7 linked regions of the Homo sapiens genome follow. The protein of the gene in region 1 interacts with the protein of each later gene in a biochemical or structural test. Each region holds a gene or a part of one and is shown in the gene's direction. Other genes may lie near its edges.

Evidence for each region.
Region 2: the proteins of ESR1 (region 1) and NELFB form a complex in vitro, tested with the Homo sapiens proteins (one study listed by BioGRID).
Region 3: the proteins of ESR1 (region 1) and SET form a complex in vitro, tested with the Homo sapiens proteins (one large-scale study listed by BioGRID).
Region 4: the proteins of ESR1 (region 1) and SAFB form a complex in vitro, tested with the Homo sapiens proteins (2 studies listed by BioGRID).
Region 5: the proteins of ESR1 (region 1) and MYBBP1A form a complex in vitro, tested with the Homo sapiens proteins (one large-scale study listed by BioGRID).
Region 6: the proteins of ESR1 (region 1) and MUC1 form a complex in vitro, tested with the Homo sapiens proteins (one study listed by BioGRID).
Region 7: the proteins of ESR1 (region 1) and ASXL1 form a complex in vitro, tested with the Homo sapiens proteins (one study listed by IntAct).

Annotation. Positions count from the first base shown.
Region 1 is NC_000006.12:151,842,182-151,845,681, forward strand, and holds part of ESR1 (estrogen receptor), read left to right. Parts: intron 1-415; coding exon 416-606; coding exon of another isoform or gene 607-612; intron 613-3,500.
Region 2 is NC_000009.12:137,258,327-137,261,826, forward strand, and holds part of NELFB (negative elongation factor B), read left to right. Parts: intron 1-3,500. UniProt on the Homo sapiens protein: Essential component of the NELF complex, a complex that negatively regulates the elongation of transcription by RNA polymerase II.
Region 3 is NC_000009.12:128,694,559-128,696,896, forward strand, and holds the end of SET (protein SET), read left to right. Parts: intron 1-82; coding exon 83-106; 3' UTR 107-1,838; downstream 1,839-2,338. UniProt on the Homo sapiens protein: Multitasking protein, involved in apoptosis, transcription, nucleosome assembly and histone chaperoning. Isoform 2 anti-apoptotic activity is mediated by inhibition of the GZMA-activated DNase, NME1.
Region 4 is NC_000019.10:5,640,083-5,643,582, forward strand, and holds part of SAFB (scaffold attachment factor B1), read left to right. Parts: intron 1-1,511; coding exon 1,512-1,576; intron 1,577-1,657; coding exon 1,658-1,864; intron 1,865-3,500. UniProt on the Homo sapiens protein: Binds to scaffold/matrix attachment region (S/MAR) DNA and forms a molecular assembly point to allow the formation of a 'transcriptosomal' complex (consisting of SR proteins and RNA polymerase II) coupling transcription and RNA processing.
Region 5 is NC_000017.11:4,552,585-4,556,537, reverse strand, and holds the start of MYBBP1A (myb-binding protein 1A), read left to right. Parts: upstream 1-1,153; 5' UTR 1,154-1,213; coding exon 1,214-1,411; intron 1,412-1,581; coding exon 1,582-1,677; intron 1,678-2,259; coding exon 2,260-2,343; intron 2,344-2,444; coding exon 2,445-2,519; intron 2,520-2,620; coding exon 2,621-2,728; intron 2,729-3,911; coding exon 3,912-3,953. UniProt on the Homo sapiens protein: May activate or repress transcription via interactions with sequence specific DNA-binding proteins. Repression may be mediated at least in part by histone deacetylase activity (HDAC activity).
Region 6 is NC_000001.11:155,185,324-155,187,619, reverse strand, and holds the end of MUC1 (mucin-1 isoform 10 precursor), read left to right. Parts: intron 1-43; coding exon 44-165; intron 166-245; coding exon 246-395; intron 396-1,410; coding exon 1,411-1,485; 3' UTR 1,486-1,796; downstream 1,797-2,296. UniProt on the Homo sapiens protein: The alpha subunit has cell adhesive properties. Can act both as an adhesion and an anti-adhesion protein. May provide a protective layer on epithelial cells against bacterial and enzyme attack.
Region 7 is NC_000020.11:32,424,331-32,427,830, forward strand, and holds part of ASXL1 (polycomb group protein ASXL1), read left to right. Parts: intron 1-3,500.

The DNA of each region.
Region 1 (3,500 bases):
AGTTCCAAATGTCCCAGCTGTTTTATGCTTTGTCTCTGTTTCCCAGAGACCCTGAGTGTGGTCTAGAGTTGGGATGAGCATTGGTCTCTAATGGTTCTGAAATAATTGTATATTCCTGCAAAAACATTAAGTCTATTAGAAACCAGCTAATTTCATTTTGTCATTTTTATAGGTAACATATTCTGGTGCAGGTAGTATGTTTTTAAAACAAGTTTGCAATAAACAATTTCCCCTCAAGGTTAATATAATAGGCAACACCTTTTGCTGCAACAGACGGCAAGAGGTAATGAAAGATTAGCTTACATTATGATTCATTATTTCAAAATGTCAGGATAAAGTGGATCTGCTGCATCTCCCAGAGAGTGCATGTTTTGCTTTTCTAATGTTAATGGATTTACTGTTTTTTTCCCCCCAGGCCAAATTCAGATAATCGACGCCAGGGTGGCAGAGAAAGATTGGCCAGTACCAATGACAAGGGAAGTATGGCTATGGAATCTGCCAAGGAGACTCGCTACTGTGCAGTGTGCAATGACTATGCTTCAGGCTACCATTATGGAGTCTGGTCCTGTGAGGGCTGCAAGGCCTTCTTCAAGAGAAGTATTCAAGGTAATAGTGTGTTGAAAACGACTTCTATTTTTGATCCTATGAGCAGATCCTAAGAGCCAAAGCGACTGAGGAAGGAAGACATAGAATCAGCCATTTGTACAAAACATGAATCCCTAGTAGGTCCACTAGTATCTTTGGTAGAAACATGGAGAAGAGACAGGATCTCAGGAGAAGGAGTTGACACATGGCAGGGCAGCTGAGGCTGAGTAATTCCGCTTCCTTCCTTTGGCAAGACTCAATCAGTCTTGAGCAACTCTACAGAAGAATTCCACTAGCTGGATCTCTGAGGAAAAAAGAAATGTTGTCTGTGCCCTGACTGGGGAATGCCAGATGGACATTCATGTTTGGTAGGCAACTTTGCCTATATGATCTGGTATATGCTGTTAATTGTCCATGCATAATTATCTCTCTACTCAGGCCTTGTCCAGGCAAATATTCTGTTTTGTTCTAGTTTAGCTTGTTCTCCCCTTTCTCTCTTCCATCTCTTTCTTGTCTCAATGGATGACAGGATATTTTGCTATGAGCTGACTCAGTGGTTGGTGTCTTGTAATGGGGAGATATCATCTTTATCAAACAGTTATTAAGTATCTACCTGTAGCATTTCATTTTCCCGCCTGCCTCCATTGTTTTCTTGTCTATAGTTTGCCAATTATAGCTAATATACGGAGAGCTATACTTTATTTCTACTCCAGAAATGTCTCTATTATTGCATTATAATAGGATACCCTGGGGAAACACTAATCATTTTTACTACCTAAAATACCTATGCTGAATATCCTTTATCTGATAGGAACAGAGATCTGACAGCAGCTTAGGCTAACCAAATTCATTTTTTATCTTAAGTGTGGGGCATTTTTCTCTCTTCTTATTCTTTACCTTTTCAGCTTAAGTGAAGGTTAGTATAAACACTAAGAATATTTCTGATGGAGTTTTCATGTGATTCCTTCTACAAAAACCCAGATTTAAGTAACTTGTTGAAAACCAGAGTCCGCTAAGTTAATAAACACTGATTGAAGAAGTGATTCTCATGGACTTTCTGTGATAGCTCTTTCCTGCCCTGATATGAGATGAAAGCTGGGGGATGGTATATAGTATTTATTTTTCCTTCCGTTGCCAGTGGGACTTTTTTTTTTTTTTTAAAAGCTGTTCATATCTTAATCGAGTAGCATGTGAGGTCAACATGGTCTATTTTAAAAGCATTTTCTTCGACACATTGCTTTTAACATCTTTTAGAACTCTGCTGTGAGACACATGGACTTTTTTGTTGGTATTTTTATACAATTAATGATATTCTCAATAGTAATCTTTGTGTGTGTATATATATAGAAATAAATTCTAAATGTAAGTTAATATATTTATTATTTTTCTAAACATATATAAATATATATATGCACACAGGCTATTTAATTTTATTAGATGATGCTATTTTAATTCAGAAAAAAATGACATTTATATTTTGATTTAGGTTAGTATAAGCCCTTAGAGGTGTTTTGACAACTCTCTTAATTTGTGGTTTTACTGTTTATTTGATTTTATATAATCTAAAATACCATTGTTTTTACCAAGCATTTAATTTGGCAGTGAAAGAGCGTCTGACAGAGGTATGGTTAGTAGATAGGTCTAACTGCACAACTGGATGGATTGAGCTGAGACTGTTTCCTCATCAGTAAAAATGATTTGAAGCAGTGGTTGGCAAAGTTTTTCTGTAAAGGGCCAGATAATAATATTTTAGGCTTTACAAGGGCCATGCAGTCTCTGTTGCAGCTACCGAACTGGATTATAGCCTGTAAGGTGACCTGTAAACACATGGAAGTGATTATGTGCTAATAAAACTTTATTTATCAGAATAGGTAACAGATCAGCCCTGGCCCGTGGCCGATCCCTGATTTAATGTTTATTTATCTGATCTAAATACCTTTATTTATGGAAGGGAATAGGGGATTTTTAAATCTAAAGTTTTGATTATTCACATTTTACTGAGAACTTACTCTATACCTGATTAGATGTTCCGAGAGAAATAAAAAAAAAGTGTAAGACATAATCCATAATACCACAAAATTTAAAATGTATTTAGGAAATTTATTTGAGGAAGTAAATGTACTTGTTCTCATGATACAATCAGAAAGTAAGTCAGTATTGATAAAGTGTTACCTGTATGAGAAAGATAAGGAAAACAATAGAGAGATGTAAGAAATGAAAATACCAGTTATAAATTAAAATTATTAAGATTGAAAGTGGAAATGATCTTCCTCCGAGAAACAATGGCAATATTCTCACAAATTTTTTACATCATTTTTGTTCAGCATTTAAGATAAAATTATATAAATTCCCATAACATTTAGTATTGTCTCTAAGCATTAAGAACAGAAAAAACAGAAGGAAAATATATTTCTAAAAATCAACGAATACAGTGTGAGATGTTTCATTGGTATGGCATTATCTCAAGTTCAAACATTTTGAAAAATGTCTGCTTACTCTTTGATAGTTAAAAACAAGTATCTCAGCTGGCGTGGTGGCTCAGGCCTGTAACCCCAGCAGTTTGGGAGGCTGAGGCGAGTGGATCACAAGGTCAGGAGATCGAGACCATCCTGGCCAACATGGTGAAACCCCATCTCTACTAAAAATATGAAAATTAGCTGAGCGTGGTGGTGCACACCTGTAGTCCCAGCTACTTGGGAGGCTGAGGCAGGATAATTGCTTGAACCTGGGAGGCAGAGGTTGCAGTGAGCTGAGATCATGCCACTGCCGTCCAGCCTGGTGACAGAGTGAGACTCCATCTCAAAAAACAAACAAAACAACACCACCACCACTAACAAAAACCTCTTATCGCCGTCTTGTATACGCAGACCAGCTAGTAGAATTTTACTGAAACAGTAGCCTATAAAAATGCAATT
Region 2 (3,500 bases), on another chromosome or scaffold:
TTGCCCAGGCTGGTCTCGAACTCCTGGGCTCAAGTAATCTGTCTGCACACCTCAGCCTCCTGAAGTGCTGGGATTATAGGTGTGAGCGACCACAACTGGTTGTGAGATTTTTTAATTAGCCAATTTTTTTTTTTTTTTTTGAGACAGAGTCTTGCTCTGTCACCCAGACTGGAGTGCAGGGCCTCAATCTCGGCTCACTGTAACCTCTGCCTCCTGAGTTCAAGCAATTCTCCTGCCTCGGCCTCTCGAGTAGCTGAGACTACAGGCGCGCCCCACCATGCCTGGCTAATTTTTTTATTTTTTTGTTTAGTACAGACAGGGTTTCACCATGTTGACCAGGCTGGTCTTGAACTCCTGACCTCAGGTAATCCGCCCACCTTGGCCTCCCAAAGTGCTGGGATTACAAGTGTGAGCCACTGCGCCCGGCCCTAACCAACTTTAAACTAGCACTGTTCAGTGGAAAAAGCGAACTATAAGTTAAGATTTTTCAGCATCCACATTAAGAAAAAAAAATGAGATCAACTTCATTAATGTTTTCTTTGGTCCAGTATATCCAAAATATTATCTTTCAGCATGTAATTCATGTGAAAGATTGGGCTGGGTACGGTGGCTCACGCCTGTACTCCTAGTACTTTGGGAGGCGGAGGTGGGAGGATCGCTTGAGCTTAGTAGTTAAAGACCAAAGGGAGACCTTGTCTCTACAAGAAAAAAAAATTAAGCTAAGCATGGTGGTGCGTACCTGTTGTCTCAACTACTCAGGAGGCTGAAGCAGGAGGATTGCTTAGGCCTCGGATATTGAGGCTGCAGTGAGGTATGATTGAGCCACTGCACTCCAACCTGGGCGACAGAGTGAGAGATCCTGTCTCAAAAGGAAAAAAAAAATATTGAGCTATAATGCTTTTTGCGGGAGGATCACTAAGATTTGAAACCTGGTGAGTCTTTCATGCTTAGAGCCCATCTGAACTACTGCACTTCAAACGCTGAGCAGTTAGTGTGGCTCTGGGTTCCCTTCGGGCCGTGGTTCCTGACCATGTGCGTGGGCAGCAGCAGGCTTGTTGGGGGTGGCAGTGCCACCTCTGTCCTCCCTTCCCTGTTTGTTTATTCCCAGTTAGGTCCTCCATGGGCCTTTTTCTTGTTCCATTGCTGTCAGACAGAGCCCTTGGACCCCTCTGCTAACTGTGGGGTGCCCTGCATTTCCCAGGCCTTTCTCCTATCGCCTGTCTCTTCTGGTGACTTGGTGCTGCCTATACTGATTTCTGTCTGTAAGGGAAATCAGTCGGCTTGGTCGGCTTAGTCCTAGGTTGATTCTCTTTTATTTTTATTTTATTTTATTTTATATATTTTTATCTTGTTTTATTTTACTACTTTTTAAAATTTATTTTTTATTTTTTTATTATTTATTTATTTATTTTTTTGGAGACAGAGTCTTGCTCTGTCACCCAGGCTGGAGTGCAGTGGCACGATCTTGGCTCACTGCAAGCTCCGCCTCCCGGGTTCACTCCATTCTCCTGCCTCAGCCTCCCAAGTAGCTGGGACTACAGGCGCCTGCCACCATGCCCGGCTAATTTTTTGTATTTTTTTTTTTAGTAGAGACGGGGTTTCACAGTGTTAGCCAGGATGGTCTCAATCTCCTGACCTTGTGATCCACCTGCCTCAGCCTCCCAAAGTGTTGGGATTATGGGCGTGAGCCACCGTGCCTGGCCTATTTTTATTTTTATTTATTTTATTTTATTTTATTTTTGAGACAGAATCTTGCTCTGTTGCCCAGGCTGGAGTGCAGTGGTGCAATCTCGGCTCACTGCAAGCTCCGCCTCCCGGGTTCACTCCGTTCTCCTGCCTCAGCCTCCCGAGTGGCTGGGACTACAGGCGCCCACCACCACGCCCAGCTATGTTTTTTGTATTTTTAGTAGAGATGGGGTTTCACCATGTTAGCCAGGATGGTCTCGATCTCCTGACCTCATGATCCACCCGCCTCGGCCTCCCAAAGTGCTGGGATTACGGGCGTGAGCCACTGAGACCGGCTATTTTATTTTATTATTTTTTTTAATTTTTAAAATTTATTTTTTAAAATTTTTTTTATTTATTTTATTTTAATTTTATATTTTGTTTTATTTTATTTTAGTTTGTTTTATTTTTTTTTTTTTGAGACGTAGTGTCCTTCTGTTGCCCAGGCTGGAGTGCAGTGGTGTGATCTCAGCTCACTGCAACCTCAGTCTCCCAGGTTCAAGTGATTCTCCTGCCTCAACCTCCCGAGTAGCTGGGATTACAGGCACCCACCACCACGCCCGACTAATTTTTGTATTTTTAGTAGAGATGGGGTTTCACCATGTTGGCCAGGCTGTTCTCGAACTCCTGGCCTCAGGTAGTCCACCCACCTTGGGCTCCCAATTTGCTGCAATTACAGGTGTGAGCCACCGTGCCCAGCCCGATTCTCTTTTAAAAAGCTAAATTAGGCCGGGTGCGGTGGCTCACGCCTGTAATCCCAGCACTTTGGGAGGCAGAGGTGGGTGGATCACGAGGTCAGGAGTTCGAGACCAGCCTGACCAACATGGTAAAAACCCATCTCTACTAAAAATACAAAAATTAACCAGACCTGGTGGTGTGCGCCTGTAGTCCCAGCTACTCAGGAGGCTGAGGCAGGAGAATCACTTGAACCCGGGAGGTGGAGGTTGCAGTTAGCCAAGATTGCGCCACTGTACTAGGCGACAGAGTGAGACTCAGTCGCAAAAAAAAAAGCTGGGCGCAGTGACTCACGCCTGTAATCCCAGCACTTTGGGAGGCCGAGGCGGGTGGATCATGAGGTCAGGAGATCGAGACCATCCTGGCTAACATGGTGAAACCGCATCTACTAAAAATACAAAAAATTAGCTGGGCGTGGTGGTGGGTGCCTGTAGTCCCAGCTGCTCGGGAGGCCGAGGCAGGAGAATGGTGTGAACCTGGGAGGTGGAGCTTGCAGTGAGCTGAGATCACGCCACTGCACTCCAGCCTGGGTAACAGAGCACGACTCGGTTTCAAAAAAAAAAAAAAAAAGTAAAAAAAAAAAAAAACTGGGTCAGGTGTGTGGCTCATGCCTGCAATCCTAGCACTTTGGGAGGCCGAGGTGGGTGGATCACCTGAGCTCAGAAGTTCAAGACCAGCCCGGGCAACATGGTGAAACCCCGTCTCTACTACAATACAAAAAATTAGCCAGTCATGGCAGCCGGCGCCTGTAATCCCAACTACTTGGGAAGCTGAGACAGGAGAATAGCTTGAATCCGGGAGGTGGAGGTTGCAGTGAACCAAGATCTTGCCATTGCACTCCAGCCTGGGTGACAGCGCAAGACTCCGTCTCAAAAAAAAAAAAAAAAAAAATTGATTGGGTGTAGGGACCAGCCCCACAGGGTTGATGGGTTTTTCTCCCCGTGTGCGGAGATGAGAGATTGTAGAAGTAAAGACACAAGGCAAAGAAATGAAAAGACAGCTGGGCCCGGGGGACCATTACCACCAAGACGCGGAGACTG
Region 3 (2,338 bases), on another chromosome or scaffold:
CACTCGTGGGGTCCATTGTGGTCCATATGAAAGCAAGTCTCAGCATTAATCCTGAAGATTAACTGCCCACTTTTTCTTTCAGGAGGATGAAGGAGAAGATGACTAAATAGAACACTGATGGATTCCAACCTTCCTTTTTTTAAATTTTCTCCAGTCCCTGGGAGCAAGTTGCAGTCTTTTTTTTTTTTTTTTTTTTTTTTCCCTCTTGTGCTCAGTCGCCCTGTTCTTGAGGTCTCTTTTCTCTACTCCATGGTTCTCAATTTATTTGGGGGGAAATACCTTGAGCAGAATACAATGGGAAAAGAGTCTCTACCCCTTTCTGTTCGAAGTTCATTTTTATCCCTTCCTGTCTGAACAAAAACTGTATGGAATCAACACCACCGAGCTCTGTGGGAAAAAAGAAAAACCTGCTCCCTTCGCTCTGCTGGAAGCTGGAGGGTGCTAGGCCCCTGTGTAGTAGTGCATAGAATTCTAGCTTTTTTCCTCCTTTCTCTGTATATTGGGCTCAGAGAGTACACTGTGTCTCTATGTGAATATGGACAGTTAGCATTTACCAACATGTATCTGTCTACTTTCTCTTGTTTAAAAAAAGAAAAAAAAACTTAAAAAAATGGGGTTATAGAAGGTCAGCAAAGGGTGGGTTTGAGATGTTTGGGTGGGTTAAGTGGGCATTTTGACAACATGGCTTCTCCTTTGGCATGTTTAATTGTGATATTTGACAGACATCCTTGCAGTTTAAGATGACACTTTTAAAATAAATTCTCTCCTAATGATGACTTGAGCCCTGCCACTCAATGGGAGAATCAGCAGAACCTGTAGGATCTTATTTGGAATTGACATTCTCTATTGTAATTTTGTTCCTGTTTATTTTTAAATTTTCTTTTTGTTTCACTGGAAAGGAAAGATGATGCTCAGTTTTAAACGTTAAAAGTGTACAAGTTGCTTTGTTACAATAAAACTAAATGTGTACACAAAGGATTTGATGCTTTTCTCTCAGCATAGGTATGCTTACTATGACCTTCCAAGTTTGACTTGTATAACATCACTGTCAAACTTTGTCACCCTAACTTCGTATTTTTTGATACGCACTTTGCAGGATGACCTCAGGGCTATGTGGATTGAGTAATGGGATTTGAATCAATGTATTAATATCTCCATAGCTGGGAAACGTGGGTTCAATTTGCCATTGGTTTCTGAAAGTATTCACATCATTTGGGATACCAGATAGCTCAATACTCTCTGAGTACATTGTGCCCTTGATTTTTATCTCCAAGTGGCAGTTTTTAAAATTGGCCTTTTACCTGGATATAAATTAATTGTGCCTGCCACCACCATCCAACAGACCTGGTGCTCTAATGCCAAGTTATACACGGGACAGTTGCTGGCATGTCTTCATTGGCTATATAAAATGTGGCCAAGAAGATAGGCTCTCAGTAAGAAGTCTGATGGTGAGCAGTAACTGTCCCTGCTTTCTGGTATAAAGCTCTCAAATGTGACCATGTGAATCTGGGTGGGATAATGGACTCAGCTCTGTCTGCTCAATGCCATTGTGCAGAGAAGCACCCTAATGCATAAGCTTTTTAATGCTGTAAAATATAGTCGCTGAAATTAAATGCCACTTTTTCAGAGGTGAATTAATGGACAGTCTGGTGAACTTCAAAAGCTTTTTGATGTATAAAACTTGATAAATGGAACTATTCCATCAATAGGCAAAAGTGTAACAACCTATCTAGATGGATAGTATGTAATTTCTGCACAGGTCTCTGTTTAGTAAATACATCACTGTATACCGATCAGGAATCTTGCTCCAATAAAGGAACATAAAGATTTTTTTTGGACTGGGGTCATTCTCCTTGTTTTATAGAGAAATGTTACTTGCTATTGGATTCAGAAATTGTTCTAGTTTTTTGTCTTCACATCGTTAGTGACTGGGGAAGCGTGGGTTAGCGCTAATGGTATGACATTGGTTTAGAAAGCTTTGAGCTGGTCGGTGTCCGAGTAAAGGACAAATTCAAATATCTTACTTGGATACAGTTTCTGAGTAAACAGTTTCTGAGAGGGTGAGTATAGCATTTTCATTCTGAAGTCTCAAAAGGACTTTTCACTAGGAAGAAAATTGAGTACAGTGGGTCCTGTTATCTGCAGCTTCAGCTACATGTGGTCAACTACAATTCAGATACTTTGAGACTACATTCACACCTATACTGTATGTTAAATGTGTGAATGTATAGTTATAGTATACAATAGTCAAAATTATCCTATACCGTTAATCTCTTACTGTGCTTAATTTGGAAATTAAGTTTTATAGGCAGGTACAGGAAAAATTGTATGGGGCTTG
Region 4 (3,500 bases), on another chromosome or scaffold:
ACCTCAGGTGATCCGCCTGCCTCGGCCTCCCAAGTGCTGGGATTACAGGCGTGAGCCACCGCGCCTGGCTGGAGCCGAAGTTTTTAAATAGTGGGGTGTAAATCAGAAATTTTTAGAAAAGTACAGGTGATCAACAACAAAAAGCAAATGATTCAAAGCAATTTGAGTAGTCAGGAGATAAATTCGTGTTAAAACAGTATTCCTTTTCTTACCTAGCATATTGGCAAAGATAAAGAAAAATAGCAAATTTTTAACAGAGATTCAAGAAAGATTGGCTTTTTTTTTTTTTTTTTTTTTTTCTGGAGATGGAGTCTCGCTCTGTTGCCAGACTGGAGTGCAGTGGTGTGATCTCGGCTAACTGCAACCTCTGCCTCCCGGATTCAAGCGATTCTCCTGCCTCAGCCTCCCGAGTGGCTGGGACTACAAGTGCACGAGATTGGCACTTTTTAATTCGCTGTTGATGGAAATGTATAAGTTAAAAAAAAACCTTCCTCTGCAATTTTTGTTTTGTTTTGTTTTGTTTTTGAGACAGAGTCTTGCTCTGTCATCCAGGCTGGAGTGCAGCGGCACGATCTCAGCTCACTGCAACCTAAACCTCCAGAGTTCAAGCGATTTTCCTGCCTCCGCCTCCTGAGTAGCTGAGATTACTGGCAACCGCCACCACAACCAGCTAGTTTTTTGTATTTTTAGTTGAGACAGGGTTTCGTCAGGTTGGCCAGGCTGGTGTCAAACTCCTGACCTCAAGTGATCCACCTGTCTCGGCCTCCTAATGTGCTGGACTTAACAGGCATGAGCCACCGTGCCCAGCCCCTCTGGAGTATCTTGATAGTATGTGGGTTTTTTGTTTTTCTTTTTTTTTTTTTTTTAACCGAGTTTCGCTCTTGTTGCCCAGGCTGGAGTGCAGTGGCGCAGTCTCGGCTCAGTGCAACCTCCGCCTCCTGGGTTCAAGTGATTGTCCTGTATTTTTAGTAGAGACGGGGTTTCACCATGTTTTCCAGGCTGGTCTCGAACTCCTGACCTCAGGTGATCCGCCCGCCTAGGCCTCCCAAAGTGCTGGGATTACAGGCGTAAGCCATCGCATCCGGCCCTTCTTTTTTCTTTTTAAGCATTAAAAATGTGCATACTCGGGCATGCGCAGTTTCTGTGGGAAAACATGTTCCTTAACTAAAAGGCAGCACATTTGCAACAAATAATTTTTCCCTCAAACAAGGACACTTGGGATAGGAAGAAGGGCAGAGCTGAGGACAGGTCTGATCCTGTTCAACTTTACTAAGAACCTGTTTTCTGCACTTCTACTTCCACAGCTCAGACAAGAACAGAACCTCTTCTGCTTGGGGGTGGGGCAGGGCTGTCTTGTGCGGAATGGCCTCATTCCTGGATTAGGAAGTGTTCCTAAGTAGTGAGGTGTCTCAGATGTTTATAAAGTGACCACTTGTGTAGTGCTCAGGGCATTGTTGCTTCTGTAAAGTGCGTATCATTTGATCTCATGCTGTAAATGATTCTGTCTTCAGGGCGCAAACCAGAAGAAGAGGGTGTGGAAGATAACGGGCTGGAGGAAAACTCTGGGGATGGACAGGTATGTGCAGCCTTGCGAGTGAGTAGCGTGGTGGATGGACCAGTGGCGGTCACATGATGGTTCGGTCTGGTTGTGTCACAGGAGGATGTTGAGACCAGTCTGGAGAACTTGCAGGACATCGACATCATGGATATCAGTGTGTTGGATGAAGCAGAAATTGATAATGGAAGCGTTGCAGATTGTGTCGAAGACGATGATGCTGATAACCTCCAGGAGTCCCTGTCGGATAGTAGAGAGCTAGTCGAGGGGGAAATGAAAGAGCTTCCGGAGCAGCTTCAGGAACATGCTGTAGGTAACCGGCAATGTCTCTAGAATGTGCCCTGAATGTATCAGTTCCACAATTAAAATAGGTGATCAGTTTCATATTGGGAAGTAAGTTGTTCTGTAATGCCAGTTCAGTAGAATAAGGGTCAGTTGGTTCAGATGATTCTGAACCAATTTGTTTTGTTGAAAGGTGATGTCTTATAACATTTCATATGTACTTGCTATCCATTTGCGGCATACAGTATGAGACATTTTGAGGACAACCATTCAGACTCTTCCTGTTGCCGGACTTGATCTGTGGTGTTATGGCCTAGGTACCTTGAAAGCATTGAACTAGGAAGAGGTTAGAAGTTGGTGTTTTCCTGTTAAGAAGCAATTGTTGAGCTGGGTGCCTTGATGCACTCATGTAATCCGGTAACTCAGAAAGCTGAGGTGGAAGGAGCAGCCCAGGAGTTCAAGGCTGTACTAAGCTATGATTGTGCAATTGAAGTCCAGCCTGGGTGGCAGAGTCTGACAGAACCCTATCTCTTGTTTAAAACAAACAAACAAAAAAAAAAACACAGCCAGTTGATACCTATCTTAAGAGTTAACCTCAAGTATTAACCTGGATGTTGTTTTTAAACCTAAATTTTTTTCCTGTTAGAAACATATCAAATGGATAGTAAGATTATAGTGGGTAGTATTTCCTGAATACTACCTACCAGGCATTGGCATTATGCCCTTCCTTTCTTTTTTTTTTTTTTTTTTTTTTTTTTCTGAGACAGAGTTTTGCTGTTGTTGCCCAGGCTGGAGTGCAGTGGCGCGATCTCAGCTCACTGCAACCTCTGCCCCCTGGGTTCAAGTGATCTCCTCCCTCAGCCTCCCAAGTGAGTAGCTGGGATTATAGGCGCCCACCACCAAGCCCGACTAATTTTCTTGTATCTTTAGTAGAGACGGTTTTCACCATGTTGGCCAGGCTGGTTTTGAACTCTTGACCTCAGGTGATCCGCCTGCCTCAGACTCCCAAAGTGCTGAGATTACAGGTGTGAGCCACCGCGCCCAGCATGTGCCCTTTAATTCTTCTAATAGCAACATGAGGTGCTGTTGTCCCCATTTTCAGTTGAGGAAATTGGGAAGGCAAGAACTAAAAAACATCTCCAGATGACACACAGCTCATAACAGAATAAGAACTAAGATCAGGCTAATTCCAGAGGCCATGTACTTAACTTATGTACGATGTTGTCTTGGTGCCATTAATTTGATATTAATTTCATTTACCTGATGATTAATGTTTGTCAGACAGAAAAAGTGATGCATATGAGAAGCTGTGGGGCCCTTTCTGTGTTGGCTCGTGGGGGGCCCTGTTCTTGTCCTGGTCCTTAGGTCTTCCGCAGTGAGTGCTTCTCAAGCAGTCTTGGTGGACAGAAACCTTGTTGTATGCCAGTCAATCCGCTTCTGCATTTCTTCAGAATATTTTTGCATTTCCTCTTGGAACTGATTCCAAGTATCCTTAGAGGTAGCAGATTGTCATATTTGAATGGAGGATTTGAGTCTGAGAAGTGGCTGAGAGTTATTCTGATACAAATAGGGTGTGCAATTTTTGGTGAGTCCCATTCATCAGCTTCTAAAAAGGAGTAGCAGAAACACTTGCACAGCAGCAGGAGTTACTTACCCTTCCTGA
Region 5 (3,953 bases), on another chromosome or scaffold:
GACCAGTAGCAGTTCCCCTCCCCTGCCATTGTAAAAGGCTTCTCTGATTTAATAGACCGTTTGATCCCACCACCTTTACCTCCCACTCCCAAGAAAATTCTTCTCCGTAATGGCACCACAATGTACCCAGTTATTTCAGTCTCAAACCTGGCATCCCCCTCATTTCCTCTCCCCCGACATCTAACTCCATCACCCACCCCACCTGCTCCACATCAGCCCAAATCTGACCTGTTCTCATTTTCCCTGGGTCCAGTCCACCACTATCTCTAAATGGTCTTCCCGTGCTTCCACCTGCGCAGACCTACAGTCCATCCCCCACACAGCAGCCAGCATCATCTTGTTAAAATGTAAATCGGATCCAGGCTTGCCCCTGCATTAAACTCACCAGTGACTTCCCATCACCCTCAGAATGAAATCCCAGCCCGGGGCCCCATGCAGCCTTGCTTCTCGCCAGCCTCAGCCCCTCCAGCCCTGGGTCTCTGTAGTTGCAAGGCTTGGGATTTCGTCCCCTTAGATCCTTGCAGGAGTACGGGGGAGGGGGGCCCTTCTTGTCACTCAGCTCTCATCCCAAATGCCACTTCCTCACAGAGGCCTTCCCTGACCAACCCCTCAAATCATTATTGGAGACCCTATTGAATAGTAATTAGCCGTGTTTTTAACGGGTGATGTATTCACGTTCCAGCACTTAAAAGCCTCCTCCTGACCCTTGCATTCCTAATTCTCTTCATAATTATGATCTTTTTAAATGCATTTGGCTCCGTGTTCCTCCACGAGAGCAGAGGCTTTGTTCCAACCGCCTAGCACGGCACGCCAGCAGGAGCCCAGTAATTGTTGAATGGCTCAATGTTCGGAGCGCAGGGGCCGCTCTGGGACGAGTCGGATCGAAGTGCTACACCTAGGTTTGTTTCCGAGATGGGCCCTTAGAAATGCCCCCCTGGGGCTCCAAAGGGGCAGATGCCACAGCCGCCAGGGCGGAGCGGGTGTGAGCAGAAGGCTGGGAAAGATGGGACGCCGCTAGGCGAGGGACTTCCGCTCAGAGCTACGGCGGAAATGCCGCTCTTTTAACTCTGGGCCGGTCTCTCTTGGTTCCCCCGCCCCTCCGGGTTCTTCCGCCTCCGAGCCGACACAAACCGGTGCGCATGCGCCGTGCCCTGACCTGGAAGCGGCTGGGGCCGGAGCACACGTGTTTCGTGTTTCGGTGAGTGTGGCGGAGATGGAGAGCCGGGATCCCGCCCAGCCGATGTCGCCTGGAGAAGCGACGCAGAGTGGCGCCCGGCCTGCCGACCGCTATGGCCTATTGAAGCACAGTCGCGAGTTCTTGGACTTCTTCTGGGACATTGCGAAGCCTGAGCAGGAGACGCGACTTGCGGCCACGGAGAAGCTGCTGGAGTATCTGCGTGGCAGGCCGAAGGTGGAGTGGCGGGGTCTGGGGCAGAGGCTGCGCATATCCCGGCAAGGAAGCGGCGGCGGGCCCAGGGAGTTGAGACTGGGGGCACGTGGTCGCGAACCTGGATGCCAGGGTGCGCGGGGGCGTGCACCTTGTTGTCACCATTGAACACGAGGGTGTGCTTGGTTCCGCAGGGGTCCGAGATGAAATATGCCCTGAAGCGTCTAATCACGGGACTCGGGGTCGGGCGAGAAACAGCCCGGCCCTGCTACAGTTTGGCCCTGGCACAGGTGAGGTGGTGCTCCTGGCAGGGTCCCAGCCATCCAGGTCAAAATGGTGGGGTATGAGGAGGGCGGGTGTGGTGTCTCAGCTGTGGCGGAGGGGCAGCCCGAGAGAGAGGTCGGGAGTGGCAGAGCAGACTGGAGGCCAACCTGAGGGAGGCCTCTTCATGAAAGTGGAGAAGGTGTGAGCAAGGCCTGGCCAGGTTTTCTATTTGGTGCTTGGGTTGCCCGGCCTCTTAGGTACACTTTCTGGGAGCAGTGAGCGCTGGGTGGGCTCCCTTAGGCCTGCAGAGGCATTCAGCTGATTGGAGTAGACCACTCTCTGAGGCGCCTTGACAAGGGGCAGAGCAATAAAGACCCAGGCCTGCAGGATCAGCCTGAGGGGAGCTCAGACCACGTGCGGAGAGAAGACCCAGTGGCTGAGCATTTCAGACTAGTAATCTAGGGGCCATAGAAGGTACATAGAAGGTGGGACTAGGGACCTGAGGCTTCTTGGGAGAAGTTGAAGGGGGAAGGGAGGTTAAGGTTTGTGAAGACGTAGTTGGGCCACTCTCCTGAACCCTCTTCCTCCTGCCACACAACTCCTGGCAGCTGTTACAGTCTTTTGAAGACCTCCCCTTGTGCAGCATCCTGCAGCAGATACAAGAAAAATATGACCTGCATCAGGTGAAGAAGGTGAGAGTGGGGCCAGGGAGGTCAGCAGCCCCAGGGGTGGGAGGCTTGGGGAATGGGGAGTTCCAGGGCCCCTCATGCCTGTGCCTGGAATCCTTTTCTAGGCAATGCTGAGACCTGCTCTCTTTGCAAACCTGTTTGGAGTGCTCGCCCTCTTTCAGTCAGGTCGGCTGGTGAAGGTAAGAGCTTTGGAGGGACTGGGGGAATGTAGGCTGGCTTGGGATGGGTGGGGGACAGTCGTGTGCCCTGCTCATACCCTCTGTCCCTCTGTGGGGACCAGGACCAGGAGGCACTGATGAAGTCGGTGAAGCTGCTGCAGGCCCTGGCCCAGTACCAAAACCACTTGCAGGAGCAGCCCCGGAAGGCCCTGGTGGACATCCTCTCCGAGGTATGAGCTCCCCAGCTGTGCGGGCCCAGGCAACACTTTGTTACAGAGACATCAAGGGGGCTCGGATGAGAATCTGGAACAGCACTGTTCCATAGAAATACAAAGATGTATAATTTGAAGCGTTTCAGTGACTTTGTTGAAAAGGTAAAAAGAAACAGGTGTCATTTAGTAACATTTAGTGACATTTGACTTTATCTGGTATATCTAAAATATTATTTCAGTGTGCATTGGTATAAAAAAGTGTTGAGATATCTTACACTCTTTTTGTCAGGTGTCTCCAAAATCCAGTGTGTATGTTACACTTAGGCACACCCCTGTTCAGATTAGCCACCTTTCAGGCGCTCAGCAGCCCTGTGTGGCTGTGGCTACCGTATTGGGCAGTGCAGCTCTGGAACTGTGCCTGGCACGTGGCAAGTATATAAAACGTTTGCCATTGTTATCCTGGTCAAGGCTGGCCCCTTGTGGGCCTCCACTGCCCTACTTGGGAAGGTAGCACCCTAGGCCCTTTTGTCACCGAAGAGAAAGGCAGGGGTAGCAGGTCTCCAGGCCAGGGCTTACTGTGCAGTCTTGACCTCAGAGCCAGAAGGACCTGAATTCGAATCCCAGCTCTCCACCTAGGGCTCCTCGTGTATGAAATGAGCTAGTACTCTGAAATACCAAAAAAAGGAATAATTAAAAGGGTAGCTTTGACCGGGCATGGTGGCTCACGCCTGTAATCCCAGAACTTTGGGAGGCCGAGGTGGGCAGATCACTTGAGGTCAGGAGTTCAAGACCAGCCTGGCCAACATGGTGAAACCCCATCTCTACTAAAAATACAAAAATTAGCTGGGTGTGATGGCGCACACCTTTAATCCCACCTGAGGCAGGAGAATTGCTTCAACCTGGGAGGCGGAGGTTGCAGTGAGCCAAGATCACACCACTATACTCAGCCTGGGTGGCAAAGTGAGACTCTGTCTTAAAAAAAAAAAATAAGGGGTGGGGGGCAGGTACCTCCAGGGGCCAGTTAGCGTCAGTGGGATGCTTGTCAAAAACCCCGCTGCCTGGGAATTTGAGTTTTGTTAGCAACTGGCCTCTGATGACTCTGATACCTCACCAGGTGGCCCCGTGTCAGGAGCAGGTAGAACAGGATCCACCAGGCTCACCCCGCAGAGGAAGTCACGATTTCTTCTCCCTCCATCCTTAGGTCTCGAAGGCCACATTGCAGGAGATCCTGCCGGAGGTCCTC
Region 6 (2,296 bases), on another chromosome or scaffold:
GCCTCCTCTGGGAGACTGCCCTGACCACTGCTTTTCCTTTTAGTGAGTGATGTGCCATTTCCTTTCTCTGCCCAGTCTGGGGCTGGGGTGCCAGGCTGGGGCATCGCGCTGCTGGTGCTGGTCTGTGTTCTGGTTGCGCTGGCCATTGTCTATCTCATTGCCTTGGTGAGTGCAGTCCCTGGCCCTGATCAGAGCCCCCCGGTAGAAGGCACTCCATGGCCTGCCATAACCTCCTATCTCCCCAGGCTGTCTGTCAGTGCCGCCGAAAGAACTACGGGCAGCTGGACATCTTTCCAGCCCGGGATACCTACCATCCTATGAGCGAGTACCCCACCTACCACACCCATGGGCGCTATGTGCCCCCTAGCAGTACCGATCGTAGCCCCTATGAGAAGGTGAGATTGGGCCCCACAGGCCAGGGGAAGCAGAGGGTTTGGCTGGGCAAGGATTCTGAAGGGGGTACTTGGAAAACCCAAAGAGCTTGGAAGAGGTGAGAAGTGGCGTGAAGTGAGCAGGGGAGGGCCTGGCAAGGATGAGGGGCAGAGGTCAGAGGAGTTTTGGGGGACAGGCCTGGGAGGAGACTATGGAAGAAAGGGGCCCTCAAGAGGGAGTGGCCCCACTGCCAGAATTCCTAAAAGATCATTGGCCGTCCACATTCATGCTGGCTGGCGCTGGCTGAACTGGTGCCACCGTGGCAGTTTTGTTTTGTTTTGCTTTTTTGCACCCAGAGGCAAAATGGGTGGAGCACTATGCCCAGGGGAGCCCTTCCCGAGGAGTCCCAGGGGTGAGCCTCTGTGCCCCTAATCATCTCCTAGGAATGGAGGGTAGACCGAGAAAGGCTGGCATAGGGGGAGGTTTCCCAGGTAGAAGAAGAAGTGTCAGCAGACCAGGTGAGCGTGGGTGCCAGTGGGGTTCTTGGGAGCTTCAAGGAAGCAAGGAACGCTCCCTCCTTCCTCTCCTGGTCTTTCTCTATGGGACCTAGTAAATAATTACTGCAGCCACCTGAGGCTGGAAAACCACTCCAGGTGGGGGAGGAGAGAGTTTAGTTTTCTTGCTCCTATTTTCCTCCTCCTGGAGACCTCCCTCTCTCGGCTTTACAAAGACACAGATACACCCCGCCCCCCAAAACACACACACACACACACACACACCTCCTTAGGCTGGAACAGCAGAGAATGGAGGGACAAGGGGGCTGATTAGAGCCAAGAAGAGGGAGTGAAGGAGAGCAGAGGGAGGAGGGCAGCCCTGTTTACAGTCACCTGGCTGGTGGGGTGGCAGGTGCTCTCTCTGAATTAACCCTTTGAGAGCTGGCCAGGACTCTGGACTGATTACCCCAGCCTGGGGTGGCATCCAGGGGCTCTAGGAGGTACCTTTTGCTCCTCACCCTGGATCTCTTTTCCTTCCACCCAGGTTTCTGCAGGTAATGGTGGCAGCAGCCTCTCTTACACAAACCCAGCAGTGGCAGCCACTTCTGCCAACTTGTAGGGGCACGTCGCCCGCTGAGCTGAGTGGCCAGCCAGTGCCATTCCACTCCACTCAGGTTCTTCAGGGCCAGAGCCCCTGCACCCTGTTTGGGCTGGTGAGCTGGGAGTTCAGGTGGGCTGCTCACAGCCTCCTTCAGAGGCCCCACCAATTTCTCGGACACTTCTCAGTGTGTGGAAGCTCATGTGGGCCCCTGAGGGCTCATGCCTGGGAAGTGTTGTGGTGGGGGCTCCCAGGAGGACTGGCCCAGAGAGCCCTGAGATAGCGGGGATCCTGAACTGGACTGAATAAAACGTGGTCTCCCACTGCGCCAACTTCTGATCTTTCATCTGTGACCCGTGGGCAGCAGGGCGGTCAGAATGTGTGTGAGGGGGCTGGGGGAGGAGACAGGGAGGCCAGGAGGCAGTAAGGAGCGAGTTTGTTTGAGAAGCAGGAGATGTGAGGAGGAGGTGACATTGGGGAGTAGGGGTGGCCTGAGGAGCCACCTCTGGCTAACCCTGGCAGCACAAGAGGAAGGAGGAAACGAAACCCAGGCGGGCTTTGGAGGGCTAGCGTGACTGGGCTCCGTGACTGAGCTCTGTGTGCCAGTGGCTCTCCCCTCTCCTCGCCTGGCCCACGCCCTCCTTGCCCCCTGGCATGGTGCCCCCCAGGTGGCTCTATTCTTAGCTGTCCGGGTGTGAAGTAAATCCTTGGGCAGTGATAACAGCCCAGAGTCAACAGGGTTGAGATAAGCAGAGGCTGGGTCAGATCCGGGCGCTGGCACCAGGCCCAGCCCCCTCCCTGACCCCGGCTGCCCCACCAGCCTGCTGCCCCT
Region 7 (3,500 bases), on another chromosome or scaffold:
TCAAGACCATCCTGGCCAACATGGTGAAACCCCATATCTACTAAAACTACAAAAATTAGCTGGGCGTGGTGGCAGCCACCTGTAATCCCAGCTGCTCGGGAGGCTGAGGCAGGAAAATCGCTTGAACCCAGGAGGAGGAGGTTGCAGTGAGCCGAGATCATGCCGCTGCACTCCATCCTGGGTGACAGAGCGAGACTCTTGTCTCAAAAAACAAACAAAAAAACTGCCACCTAGAGATGGTGGTGGCCAACAGCTTAGTAAGAATTTCTCTTGCATTTTTCTATGCAAACACATTCAAATTTTCATTTTTTAAAAAAGATGATAGAATCATACTGTATGAATTTAATTGCCTAATTAAGCTTGTGTATCATCGTTTCTCTTGTCATTAAATGCTGTACAGCTTTCTTTTAAATGGCTATCTGTGGTAGTGTTCCTTGAAGGAAATACCTTAAAATTTTTTGTTTTTAAACTTTTATAATTGTGGGAATGTAATACAGTGAATGCATAGGACACAAATGTTCAGCTTAAGGAATTATTATAAAGTGAACACCCTGTAACTGCCACTTAGATCACGACATCAAATATGGCCAGCAGCCAGGCGCACCTCCCCTACCCCCCACTGCCCCTTCCCAGTCACAGCCCCATTCTTCCAGCTGAAGGTAACTTCTGTCTTGACTTTATGAAAGTTATTTTCTTGCTTTCCTTTAGATTACCTACCCGTCTTTGCATTCCTAATGCTGTAGTTTAGTTGAGCTTATTTTGAACTTTTCACAAACGGAATCATCAACTATGCATTATTTTGTATCTGGCTTTCATTCACTATTTTGTTTTTAATATTCATCTATGTCGTTAGTAGCTATAGTTCATTCATTTTTTGTTGCTGTATAATCATCCATTTATTGAATGTACTACAATTTGATTCTGCCTTTGGCAGCCACTTTGATTGTTTATAATCCAGATTTCAAATGCTGCATCATGAACATGTGGGTTGTGATTTGTGTAGATGTGCATGTACTTCTCTAAGGAATCCAAGCCTAGGAGGGACGTTGCTGGGTCAGAGGATGTTTGTATCTTCAACTGTACCAGATAAGGCCAAATTGTATTCTCAAATGCTTGGATCTGTTTTCAGTGTACTTGTTCTACTCCTAATTAACACTACTTGATATTGTCAAACTTTAATTGTAGCCATTCTGATGGATGTGGTAGTATCTCATTGCGGTTTTAATTTGCATTATTTTGCATTTTCCTTATTGTTAGTGAGATTAAATACCCTTTTATATGTTTTGGCTACTTCAGTATCCTCTTGTGCAGTGCCTAATTCACATCTTTTATTTTTCTTCTGAGTTGCCTTTTGCCCATTGATTTATATTTGTTCCCCCTCTCTCCCCGCCCCCAAGAAGGAGTCTGGCTCTGTCACCCAGGCTGGAGTACAGTGGCACAATCTTGGCTCACTAACCTCTGCCTCCTTCGTTCAAGTGATTCTCCTGCCTCAGCCTCCCAAGTAGCTGGGACTGCAGGTGTGCGCCACCACGCCCAGCTAATTTTTGTATTTTTAGTAGAGACAGGGTTTCACCATGTTGACCAGGCTTGTCTTGAACCCCTGACCTCAAGTGATCCATCCGCCTTGGCCTCCCAAAGTACTGGGATTACAGGTGCAAGCCACCATGCCCGGCCTGATTTATAAATGTAGTCTAAATACAAGTTCTTTATTGGTTATGTAAGTTGCAGATATCTTTTTCAGCTCTGTAGGTAATAATGTTTTTTGATGAATAGGAGGTCTTAATTTTAATGTAGTTTAATTGATTTGTTTTCTCCTTTGTAAGAATCAATATTTTTCATGTCCTGTGTAAATCTCGTATTGGGATAAAAGATACATATATATTTTTTAGGTTTTGGCTAATAGTTTTCCGTTGGCAGCATGTGAACCTTTTTATGCCATTTTTACTTTCATCAAGGGTGTATGTATGATTTTCTCATACTCTTGTCAGAACTGGAGATTTGGGGTAACTTTGCCAGTGTAATAGACTTTCTTAATTCATTAAGGAGTATTTTATCTTAGTTTGCCCATGAGAGAAGAGAGATTAAATTTGTTTTATTATACCAAGAACATGGCAGTCAATAAGCATAACTAAAAATATTATTTAGCTTTTGATTCTGAAGACCATGTATGGCCAGTAAGGAAAAGAGGTAAAGATGTAGAAAACTGTTTTCTTTTTTTTCTTTCTTTTTTTTTTTTTTTTTTTTTTTTGAGATGGAGTCTTGCTCTGTCGCCAGGCTGGAGTGCAGTGGCGTAATCTCAGCTCACTGCATCCTCCACCTCCTGGGTTCAAGTGATTCCCCTGCCTTAGCCTCCCGAGTAGCTGGTACTACAGGCGCGTGCCACCACACCTGGCTAATTTTTTGTATTTTAGTAGAAACAGGGTTTCACCGTGTTGGCCAGGATGGTCTCAATCTCCTGACCTCGTGATCCACCTGCCTCAGCCTCCCAAAGTGCTGGGATTACAGGTGTGAGTGAGCCACTGCACCTGGCCTCTTTTTTATTAATTTAAGATACATGATTTTGGCTAAAACTAATGAAAATAAATTGATGAAACTTCAATGTAGTGGATCAAGAGACTCATGAAATTGATGAGTTAGATTGTTGTGGGCACCTGTTTTAAATTTATGGTGCCTTTTTAGCAGAATCATGACTTTATCAACTCTTTTTCACATACTTTTATTCAAAGAAGACATTCTCCTCCTCTGCCCCAACTTATCTTCTTCTTGTCTCCAACTGCCAGTATTCTCATCCACACTCTTTGTAGTTTTGAGGTGTGAGATAACTCCCAAGTTCTTCTTGGGAATGGGTAGAGTTTAATTCTGAGTCTACATGTCGTGAGTCTATTGGAAGAAGCTTTTCTTAGGAGGTGAAATTTGGGATGGAGTTCTCCTCTACACTCTAGCCCTGTAGCCACAATCTTTGGTTTAGATCTTTGGCATTTTTTGTTGGACATCTTTCATAGTGTCTACCTCTTCTTCCTGCCTCTAGGCTTCCCGCGGTTGCCAGATGAAATTCCGAAAACTCAAATCATTCCTGTAGTTAATATTCTTCAGTGACTCCGGAACAATCAAATTCTTGATCCCTCCACATGGGTCTTACCATCTGCCCTCGTGCCCTCTCTAGCTTCCTGCATATTGAGTTCCCCACAGCCCTAGTTTCCCTGAGTTTGGAATATTCTTTCACATTTGCTCATCCCACTATCTAGAAACTTCCTACAATCTCTCTACTGCCAACCTGTCTGTCTAGTTGCTAATTTATTTTAAAACCCAGCTTAAGCAACACATCCTTTTGGATGTGTTACTTCCCTGATCGTTATTCACCTCCATGCCGTCTTTCGCTCAACTCATTGAAGTTAGGTGCCCCTCTTCTGGGCTGCCACGGCTCTCCATGTTCACCTATGTACTGTACTTTGTATTGTAATCAGTTTAATTGACCCCCCTACTTATTTGAGCTCCTTGAG